Linked DNA regions of Homo sapiens: region 1 is linked to region 2. Evidence: fine-mapped expression QTL. A gene starts in region 2. The other region holds a variant in brackets. All regions are shown on one strand. Distances are from middle to middle. Region 1 overlaps RFT1 (RFT1 glycolipid translocator homolog). Region 2 holds the start of RFT1 (RFT1 glycolipid translocator homolog).

Region 1 (5,378 bases), 26 kb before region 2:
GACTTCATCTCACTAAAAAAAAAAAAAAGTGGGGGAAACTTGCATTGAGGCAGACACGTGCAGGGAGATGATGACGTGAAGAGCGCAAGGGGGATGATGACGTGAAGACAGAGAGAACACAGCCATGTGACCGCAGTACTGCAGCTGCAAGTCAAGGAACGCCAGGATGCCAGCAACCATTAGCAACTAGAAGAGGTAGGAAGGGGCCTCTCCTCGAGCCTTCAGAGAGAACACGGCCCTGGCCATAGCTTCATTGTGCACTTCTGGCCTCCAGAACTGACGGACAATATGTTCTGTTGTTTAAAGCCACGCAGTCTGTGGTACTTTGTCATGGCAGCCCTAGTTCATTAAGACAAGGGGATAGAGAAGGAAAAAAGTAAAAGGCAGAGGGACAAGAGAGAAGCACCTAAGAGAGAAATGTAAGAAATCTTGGGGAAATTCTGTGAATGTGTGGGTTTTGCTTAAGGATAGAAAAGCTAGGTGTTGTTCTGTGAGTTACCAAGAAAAAAGAAAAGAAAAGAAAAAGCAAAGCAAAGCTAGGTGTGAGAAGGATTTCTAAGAAAAGCCTCTAGAACACTTACAAAGACCCTAATTAAATGCAGGGCTAATCCCAAACAACGGAAGAGAAGCCACACCCCTACACAAAAGCCTGTCCGTGCTGTGTCCGAGTCCCACATCTGGAGATGGCCAGTACAGCTCACAGGTAAGTAGTCCACTTCCAGGGTGAAGACAAAGACAAGTACACAACTGGGGACAGCAGTGTTGCGAGTTCCACTTTCAAAACTAAGATGATGGGCTGAGTCATGATAATGATGGGACAGCCCCCTCCTTGAGGCAACGCCCTGTGATTGTGTGACATTAGAGGCTGCTCCTTGGTGATTGCTTTCTAAAGGGGAAGAGCTGCTACAGAATAGTCGAGTTCCCAATCTCTGCCCATAAACTTACTAATGCCTTCCTCATGAGGCCTCCCCACAGCTGCCAGATGGAAATACACTTCTCACAGCACAAGCCCCAGGGAGCTGCAAACCACTTCACTGGTTTCACAGCAGGTGTTTCTCCAAACTTAATGACCTTTGCTCTGGTATAGAAACCTGGCCCTTCCTCCCCTAACACCAAAAGTTTGGGCCCCATTGTAGTGGAGACTAAAACATGCTAGTGAACTTGTAAAATGGCATTTGACAAAGCCCTTTATATTGAGATGGGGCAGCAGAAAGAAGTCCTCAGCGTTCTTGTCCAGCGACCTGAGAAATTAAAAACATCTTTGCTAAACCCAAGATGAAGCACTGCAAATGGACTGCCAGCTTACAGCCCAGCACATTTTGAAATTGATGAAGTCCCCAAGACCTAACAAGTGCTGTGAGATCCTCAGCGGCCTGGTGTTTCAAAATTAGACACATTCAATACTTTTCTTCTTCAAAAACTGAGAGTCACTGGATTAAATATACCATTTTATTTGCAGAGATCAATTTTATTCTCTGCAAATGGCTTTGGGTTATCCTTCAGAGGCTTTTATGCACTAGGCTGGGAGATTTATGTGGCATTTACTATCTTCAGATGTGTTTAGTACCAAGTGGAGACTCATTACCGTCTGCCCTCTGCCTTCCTCCCTCACCCCAGAGGGAGCACAGGGAAGCGCTTGGCAAAACACATTCTAGGCCCGAGAGGAAAGCCAACAGCAAGGAGAAGTCCTAATAACTTCTCCAAGTGAGGCTGGGGAAGCTGATTGTCCTGGCGCCAACGCCCCTGCCTATACCTTGAGTGTGTGTCTGGAGTTGAACGAGGGGAACAGTCCCACAGCCCCTGCCACCAGACAGTTTTCCCTACACTGACACAGATAACAACTGTGTGTGCACAAGTTCTTGAATTTCGTGACTCTTCTATTTATGTTGGGAAATCAGAAAAAATCCAGAAAAACTCTTGTGCGTACCGGATCCTGAGCTAAGCATGGTCCCTCCGTAGATATCCAGAGCCAGCTGAGAATAGGCAAAGCCAAAAACAGTGATGGTCAGGCCGGCCAGCAGGGCCAGCTTGAGCAGGGACTCCAAGACTGCAGCAGCCACAGCAACGTCCTCCTGGGGCCAGGGAAGAGGGAAGGAAGTTGGATGAATCATGAGCTGAAGAAAACCTTCATCCTTCACGTCTGGCCTTCTCCCTTCACTGTTTTACAGTTCACTCTTCCAACAGCGTGATGGATATCACTATTTTTTTGTAG[T/C]GTGTTTGTTTTCACGTCAGTTAGCAAATGAAGGAAAAAGTGTGTGTCTCCTTAGGTCGTAAGGGGGAGGGTTAGTTTTCAATTCACTTGGGATAAATTGTTTCAAATATTGCTTAGGAAACACTCACTTTCCCCTCTGATATTTGTTCTTTTTTTTTTTTTTAAATAGAAATAGAGAAGGGAGTCTCACTATGTTGACCAGGCTAATCTCAAACTCCTGGCCTCAAGCAATCCTCCTGCCTTGGCCTCCCAAAGCGTGAGGCTTACAGGCATGAGCCACTGCACCAGACCACTAATATTTATTCTTAAATGTGCAGCAAGTTTTCATATACACTAGCCAGCTCTGTGCTTCTCCTGCTAAACATTCCAAAATTATGATGATACTGTGAAGGTACTCTTAGGAAAATATTCCTAAATCAGACTGAGTACCAGATTAGCTCATTTTGAGATATTGTGCATAAACTGTATTTTACTAAATTTCTTCTAAGACAAGCAAGAGGCTGAACTAGCTTGCTATTCTAAGAAAAGTCAGACATTTTCAGTGGTTTTGGAAAAAGTGAAGCTCCTACAACAAAATACTCCTAGATTAAAATCTCTTCTTCTGTATTTACCAACCCGAGTATACAGAATCTTACAGTCAGAGTGTAGCTCTGGGCATGTCCCAGTTGTAAGAAGCTTAAATAATTGGTGTGGTGAGCGAAAGCCAACAACCACTTCCTCTCCTCCCTATGCCCTTGATTAGCCTGGCTCCAACTTCTGCATCCTTTGGCTCTTGAGACTCTGAGGATAAGGGAAGCATTCTTACGCCTAAGACTAGCCCATGGCTGGGCATCTGCAGGGCAATGGGGACAGCTTTAGAGTCCTGAGAGGGCTGGATCAAGAGTAAGGTCACATGGCCAGGTATGGGGGCTCACACCTGTAATCCTAGCACTTTGGGAGGCTGAGGTGGGCAGACTGCCTGAAGTCAGGAGTTCAAGAGCAGCCTGGCCAACATGGCAAAACCCCATCTCTACTAAAAATACATAAATTAGCTGGGTGTGGTGGCGCATGCCTGTAGTCCCAGCTACTCAGGAGGCTGAGGCAGGAGAATCGTTTGAACCTGGGAGGTGGAGGTTGCAGTGAGCCGAGGTCATGCCACTGCACTCCAGGCTGGGCGTCAGAGCAAGACTCTATCCCCGCCCCCCCCCCCAAAAAGAGTAAGGTCACAACGAATAACAAAGGTGTGAGAAGGAAGGGACAGCCAAGAGCAAAGCAAGAAGGCCACGAAAGAAGAGGTGAGCCCTGGGTCCCACTATCATGAAGAATGTAATAGAAGAATGAAATCTATAAGAAAATTCCTGATCAAACAGAAGAGAAACAGACTGCTTCACACTCCTGTCTGTCTTGCAATTAAAGGGAGAATTCACTTGAGAGATGACATAAGAACCAACATTACCTGCTTCTGAAGTGTGGCATCCTTTCCCCTCTCCAGCACCTTAGCAAAAAATATATAAAAACTTTCCTCTATTGGCTGGAAAATTAATCTGGCCACAAGGGAGCCAAGATTATTCACTATATCATACACACCTACAAAACAAAAAAGAAGAAACAACAATCATGTTGGTTTTTCTATTTTAATTTTTATAGCACTATTAAAATTATTTAATATTTTCATTAAAGTTTGTTTATCTTGAGATAATTATAGATTCACACAGAGTTATAAGAAGTAATAGTGGCCAGGCACGGTGGCTCATGCCTATAATCCCAGCACTTTGGGAGGCCAGGGTGGGTGGACTGCTTGAGCCAGGGAGTTTGAGATGAGCCTGGGAAACACGGAAAAACCCTGTCTCTACAAAAATGGAAAAATTTAGCCAGGCGTGGTGGTGTGCATTTGTAGTCCCAGTTATTTGGGAGGCTGAGGTGGGAGGATCACCCAAGCCCAGGAGGTTGAGGCTGCAGTGAGCTGTGATGGTACCACTGCACTCCAGCCTGGGCAATAGAATGAGACCCTGTCTCAAAAAATAAAAAATAAATAAAAAAGACAAAAAAATAGGAAGTAATAGAGGGATCCCATATATACCCTTTACCCAGTGGTAACATTTTGTAAAACTATAGTACAATATCACAACCAGGATACCAACGATGATACAGTCAAGATACAGAATGCTTCCATCAACAGTACTTTCTTATACAGGTCATTAATGCAAAGTTGATGTTTTTCTATTTGATTTCAGTTACTTTGGGATTACATTAAAAGATAAAAATGAAAATACTGAAAGACTATCTAGCCACACAAACATGGGGCAGATTTTTGTGGCTGTGACAGTGAGCTCCCTTTTCTCCTCTCTTGGCACCTCCCACCTCCCAAAATGAACACCAGAGCTCTCAGGAGGCAAAATAGAGGGCCGGGGTCTCACCAGAATACCTGACACCAAAGTCATGTTGGAGGGCATAGTCAGTACAAAGACCTACAATTTACAATCTTCAGGATTTTCTTTAATCTTCAGGTTCATCTTTCATTAAATATATCAGAGAAAAATATTAGGAAGTATCTATTAATAGTGTTCACCTTTAATTAAAACACTACAGAATTTCATCTTACCCTGATCACCAAAGTTCAATACATTCAAAAATGTCATCACATATCGCTCGCCTATAAACAAAAAAGCAAAATAATTAGCAATGTCAAATGCACATTACTTTATTGTTTCCTTTCTCTCACCAGCTATCAACTTTTCCAGCTGACAAATAAAGGAGAAATACTAGGTAATCAGTTAAAGACATGTCCTTGTCCTAATGTTGATTTCAAATAATCTCAGAGTAACAATTTGGAAAGTGCTGAGGACTTTATTGACAGCAAATCTCCAAGCCAGTTAAATTACAAATAAAAAAAAATAAAAATAAAACAAGTCTAAAAAGGTTTTTTTTTTTTTTTTTGAGACGGAGTCTCGCTCTGTCACCCAGGCTGGAGTACAGTGGCACGATTTCGGCTCCCTGCAAGCTCTGCCTTCTGGGTTCATGCCATTCTCCTGCCTCAGTCTCCCGAGCAGCTGGGACTACAGGCGCCCGCCACCGCACCCGGCTAATTTTTTTTGTATTTTTAGTAGAGATGGGGTTTCACTGTGTTAGCCAGGATGGTCTCGATCTCCTGACCTCGTGATCTGCCCACCTCAGCCTCCCAAAGTGC
Region 2 (5,378 bases):
AAAATCCCAACACTTTGGGAGGCTGAAAGGTAGGAGGATCACTTGAAGCCAGGAATTTGAGACCAGCCTGGGCAACACAGTGAGACCTCATCTCTACAAGAAATATTTTTAAAAGAAATGAGACTGTAGAAGTGAAAGCATTTTTTAAGTGCATACAAATGAAAGGCATTAATACTTTCAGCATAGGTGGCTTAGAATTAAGATAGAACAAGCTCTCAAATTCTTGCAGAATAAAATGTAACCACAAAGCTACCTGAAGTGTCTACAGTGTAATTCGAGAAAGCATACAAGAATGAAAACACTCAAGAAACCATATAAAAATATGGTTATTAAAAAAAAAATCCGAGCGCGGTAGCTCACACCTGTAATGCCAGCACTTCGGGAGGCTGAGGCAGGTGGATCACTTGAGGTCAGAAGTTCGAGACCAGCCTGTCCAACATGGTGAAACCCTGTCTCTACTAAAAATACAAAAATTAGCCAGGTGTGGTGGCAGGTACCTGTAATCCCAGCTACTTGGGAGGCTGAGGCCTGAGAATCTCTTGGGCCCGGGAGGCGGATGTTGCAGTGAGCCGAGATAGTGCCACTGCACTCCAGCCTGAGCAACAGAGTGAGACTCCATCTCGAAAACAAAAAACAAAACACCATGTGTACATACTTATGTTAACCTCAAAGTTACCACTGTCTAAGAAACTTAATGTTCCAGGCCATATCCATGTCTCCTAATTGGTTTGAATAAAGGTTGCAGCTAATGAAACTGAGGTTGCTTACGCCACCCAGTATTTGCCACACACTGCAGTCCTTATTAGCAACACAGCCTTCATTTACTTCTGCAAAGAACTTTACAGCTTTTGTTTTAAGACAGGGTCTCACTCTGTTGCTCAGGCTGGAGTGCAGTGGCATAATCACAGCTCACTGAGGCCTCAACCTCACAGACTCGAGATCATCCCACCTCAGCCTCCTGAGTAGCTGGGACTACAGGTGCATGCCACCACGCCCATCTAATTTTTGTATTTTTTGTAAAGACAAGGTTTCACCATGTTGCCCAGGCTGGTCTTCAACTCCTGAGCTCAAGCAATCCTCCTGCCTTGGCCTCCCAAAGTGCTGGGATGACAGGCATGAGCCACCGCGTCCAGCCAACTTTACAGTTTTAACAAAAAGGCTCTCTCACATCTGTTAAATTATTTGACACTAAAAACAACGAGGTAAATGCACAGGAAGCAAGACTGAGGGTTAAGTGATTTCCTCACTGTCACACGGCAAGTAAATGACCCAGCTTGACCTTACAGGTAAGCCACCTGACTCGTAGTCCAGTGTGTTTTCCGTTATAACTTGTTTTCGTTTTATGAAGCCTATCTGAGTAGTAAGATATTATCAAAGGCTGAAAAAAAACCAACATTGTGGATAAAACAATAAACTCAGTTATTTATGTAGTGAAACAGAAAAAAAAAATCCCTAGGTAAACTTAGAATGGCTAACATTTACTAAGCACATATCACGTGCAAGGCACTCTTCAACATGCTTTCCATAGGTTATCTCATTTCATTCCTACATTGACTATTTTAAAAATACTTATTACCCTAATAAAAATAGCTACATTTATTAAGTACTTGTAGTGTGCCAGGCACTTAAGAGGCATGATTTCATCTAATCTTCCTAATGACCCTGTGAGGTTGCACTATGATTCTCATTTAAGATGAAGAAACTGATACAGAAGTCATCGGATTTATCCCGAAGGCAGGCATCTAGCAAGTGACAAGGCCCAAACTCAAGCCCCATTCTGCTTGGTTCTTTCTTCTGCCCTCCATGTGCCTCTCTAAGATAAGGGGTAGGGTAGATTCGGGACTTGTGTGAAGTAGGGTTGATTGGCTCAAGAGTGAGACAGAGAGATACTGAGCCACTTGACTTAAGAGGTTCAGCTCCTGGGGTTGAAAGAATCTTCAGATACCATTTGGACTAACTGGCCTGTATCATACCTGACAGATGACAAAAATTAGGGCCAAGAAGGGAAGTGACTTGTCCAAGATCACATAAACAGAAGATGCAGCCAACATGTATTAAATGCATACTAAGAGCCGGGTACTGTGTTAAGTACGTTTATTTGAATGATCCCAATCAATCCCTGCTTATGAGCTAAGTACGACATATTATTACCCCCATTTTACTAGTGAGGAACTCAGGCTCTGCAGGTGAAGTCACTTGTCCTGGGTCACGGAGCAATCCAAGCCTAACTCCAGATTTCTCTTCTTAGCTATGCCATATGGACTCTCGGAACTCAGTGGGACTCAAAGTTTGAGGAAGGTGTTTGATGAAGGAAATGAACCCCTTGCCTGAAAAATATCAGATTCTCGAGCACGAAATACCAGTCCCTCACCCCCGCCACCTGATCTAATTCACTCCTACTGCCATATGGGAAATAGAATGCTCAGAAGGAAAGCGGCTTGTCTGCAGTCACCCGGCCTAGACTCTAAAGGCAGGCTCCTATCTCCGGGCCAGGGTCCCCCCTCATCAATGCCACCGTCTCCGGTCGACCCCCCCACCCCCTCCATTGCGGGGTCCACCTCGGGACTGGGTCGGCCCTGGGGCAGGCTCTCAAGGGCCCAAGGGCTGCCATCCCGCGAATCCCGGCTGCAGTACAAGCTGGAACCTGAAGGGCAGAGAGTACCTGCAGGAGGAGACCGGAGGAGGCCAGCCGGGCCGCGTGGCCCAGCACCTCCTGGCTGCCCATAGCCTCCGCGCCAGGCTCAGACACCAGGAAATGCCGCCGCCACTCCGTTTAGTCGCGATAAGATGGCGTCACGGCGCGCCTCGCTGTCTGATTGATGGCCTTGAGAGAGGGGGGCGGGGCACGAGAAGTTCTGGTCCTTTAAGTGGGCCTGTCTCGGGCCGTCTGTTATGGCGCCTGGCTCTTTCTATTTCGGTAGGTTTTGCGCTGTCTGTCGCTTGTGCGCTGTCTGTCCCTCTCTTCCCCGTATAAACGAAATAGTGTGGCGAGTACTAAGAGATACCGTTAAAGAATCCAAAGTTCCTTCTCTGAGGCTTTCAGCCACCAACCAAGAAGCACTAACTTTCCTGGCCTCATCTGCCAAAAGGGGAACAAACTTCTCACTGGCCCGTTAAGAAGATTCTCACCATTGACCTTTGCTTACAGAATCACAGCCACAGACCCTCTGAATTAGGCTGGACAGGAATTGTCCTCATTTAACAGAGAAAGAACTGAGGACCAGAAGTTAGATATAGCACTGTTATGTGTATGGTTTTGTGAAATCCTTCCGAAAGCTCTGAGAATTGGCCCCTGTGGTTAGAGATGAGTAAAGCCTTGGAGATGGGAAGTGACTTGTTCGAATCTACACAACTTGTTTCCTGACTAAGTGGATACCAGGCTCCTGATCCTAAACTTATCACTCTTGCCTGTATGCTAGAAATTGTGAGGGCAGAGTGGAAGAAGGACTGGAAGTGCTTTGTAAAAAAATGTAAAGCGCCCAACATACACAATCAGCTGCTGTTCTGTCAGTGTTCTTATTATCTACCAAGCAGGCTGTAGGAAGCCCAGTCTTTCCCCAATCTCTTTCAGTCCTCACATGATTTGGCCCCAACCTATCTTCTACTACCTTTCACACGATCATTGCCCTTCCCAACACTATCTAGGCCATAGCCATTCCGAGTCCTTACTGGTCCTCAAACAGGCGGTGACTCACTGGCCTTTGCTCCTCCACCCTCTTTGTCCAAAGTGTCTTCCCTGACAGCACCCCTTGCCCTCCTAGACCACACTGTCCTGACTTTCCTGGCCAACCACAGCTGGTACCTGCTGTGGACTAAATGTTTGTGTACCCTCAAAATTCATATGTTGAAGCCTAATCCCCAGTGTGATAGTATTAGGAGGTAAGGCCTTTGGGAAGTAATTAGGTCCTGAAAGTGGAGCCGTCATAATGGGATTCATGTCCTTATAAAAAGAGATGTCAGAAAAATGATCTCTGTGTTTACTATTTGAGGATACAGCAAGAATGTAGCTGTCTGCAACCACGAAGAAGGCTTTGTAAAATGTAAGGCGCCCAACATACACTTAACAGGAACCAAACTGGCTAGCACCTTGATCTTGGGCTTCCAGCCTCCAGAGCTGTGAGAGAAATTTCTGTTTTTGACTTACCCAGTCTATGGTATTTTGTTACAGCAGCCCAAGCAAATCAAGACAGTACCCCTAAAATACTCTGTACCCCTTTATAGTTCCTAATGCAATCTGCATTATAGCAGAAAGACTAGAATATGTGTCTCTATATAATCAGCCCATGAGCTCCAAGAGGGCAGAAGTGCAGCCTGCCTGGTTTTGCTTCCTGAAGTAGCGGTACAGAACATTCTTAGGGCTCCTATAAATGTCTCCTGACACATGACTGCTGCTACTGCTGCTGGAAACAGACTGTGGAACTCAAAGCCTATCACTCCCATCTTCCCAGGTGAAATGAGCTCTGTCTTAGTGTGGAGGCCCAGAATGTGAGCTTTTCTTTTTCTTTTCTTTTCTTTTCTTTTCTTTTCTTTTTTTTTTTTGAGACAGGGTCTCGCTCTGTCTCCCAGGCTAGGGTGCAGTGGTACAGTCTTGGTTCACTGCCGCTTCCACCTCCTGGCCTCAGGTAATCCTCCCACCTCAGCCTTCCGATTAGCTGGGACTACAGGCGTGCAGCACCAGACCTGGCTGATTTTTTCTGTGATTTTTGTAGAGATGGGTTTTTCCCACGTTGCTCAGGCTGGTCTCCAACTCCTGGACTCAAGTGATCCGCCCACCTCAGCTTCTCAAAGTGCCGAGATTACAGGCATGAGCCACCGCACTGCACCCTGCCCAAGAATGTGAGCTTTTGTCTGTCAGAGAGAACTGACCTTGAATCCTCATTCTGCCACTCACTGACTGGGTGACCTCAGTATGCTCAGCTACTAAATAGGGATATTATCTGTCCTGTAAAAATAGTCATAAGGATTGTTTCAGGCAAGTCTGGCCCTCAGAGAGCTTAAATTCTAGTGAAAGGGAAACTGAAAAAAACTCTAACAAACAAATAAAATTTCACATAGGGCTAAGTGCTACGAAAGAATGAAACCAGGTAAGATCCTAGAGGCTTTGGAAGAGAGAGAGGGGTGCTGTTTTAGGATGAGTGAGTTGGGCACCCACCTGGGGAGGAGTGTACTTGGAGAATAGAGAAAGTGCTGGAGGGTCCAGGTATTTGGCATAATGGCTGAGATGCTAAAGACCTTGACCTGGGCAGCCTTCCCACCCCCCTGGACTGTGGGCCAGCAGGTGAGACAGCCTCCCACTTCCTTTATTCCCAGCCAAGCAGTCTCCTCCTCTACAGCTCATCCCCAGAGTAGAACCAGCCAAGAGTTCATCATGTGCACAC

Evidence for each region.
Region 1: its variant is fine-mapped to the expression of RFT1 in whole blood (INTERVAL, PIP 0.90).

The regions. Positions count from the first base shown.
Region 1 is chr3:53,102,026-53,107,403 of GRCh38, forward strand. It overlaps RFT1 (RFT1 glycolipid translocator homolog), which reads right to left. Exons shown (of 13, transcript NM_052859.4): 8 at 4,794-4,844; 9 at 3,648-3,778; 10 at 1,928-2,072. Among named protein-coding and RNA genes, the nearest start is that of RFT1, 26 kb to the right of the region's middle. RefSeq lists enhancers at 741-790, 790-1,291. The variant T/C (reference allele first, on the strand shown) is at 2,213.
Region 2 is chr3:53,127,676-53,133,053 of GRCh38, forward strand. RFT1 (RFT1 glycolipid translocator homolog) reads right to left here and starts at 2,760. Exons shown (of 13, transcript NM_052859.4): 1 at 2,663-2,760. The coding sequence starts at 2,725. RefSeq lists enhancers at 2,616-2,805, 2,816-2,865, 2,906-3,105, 3,116-3,165.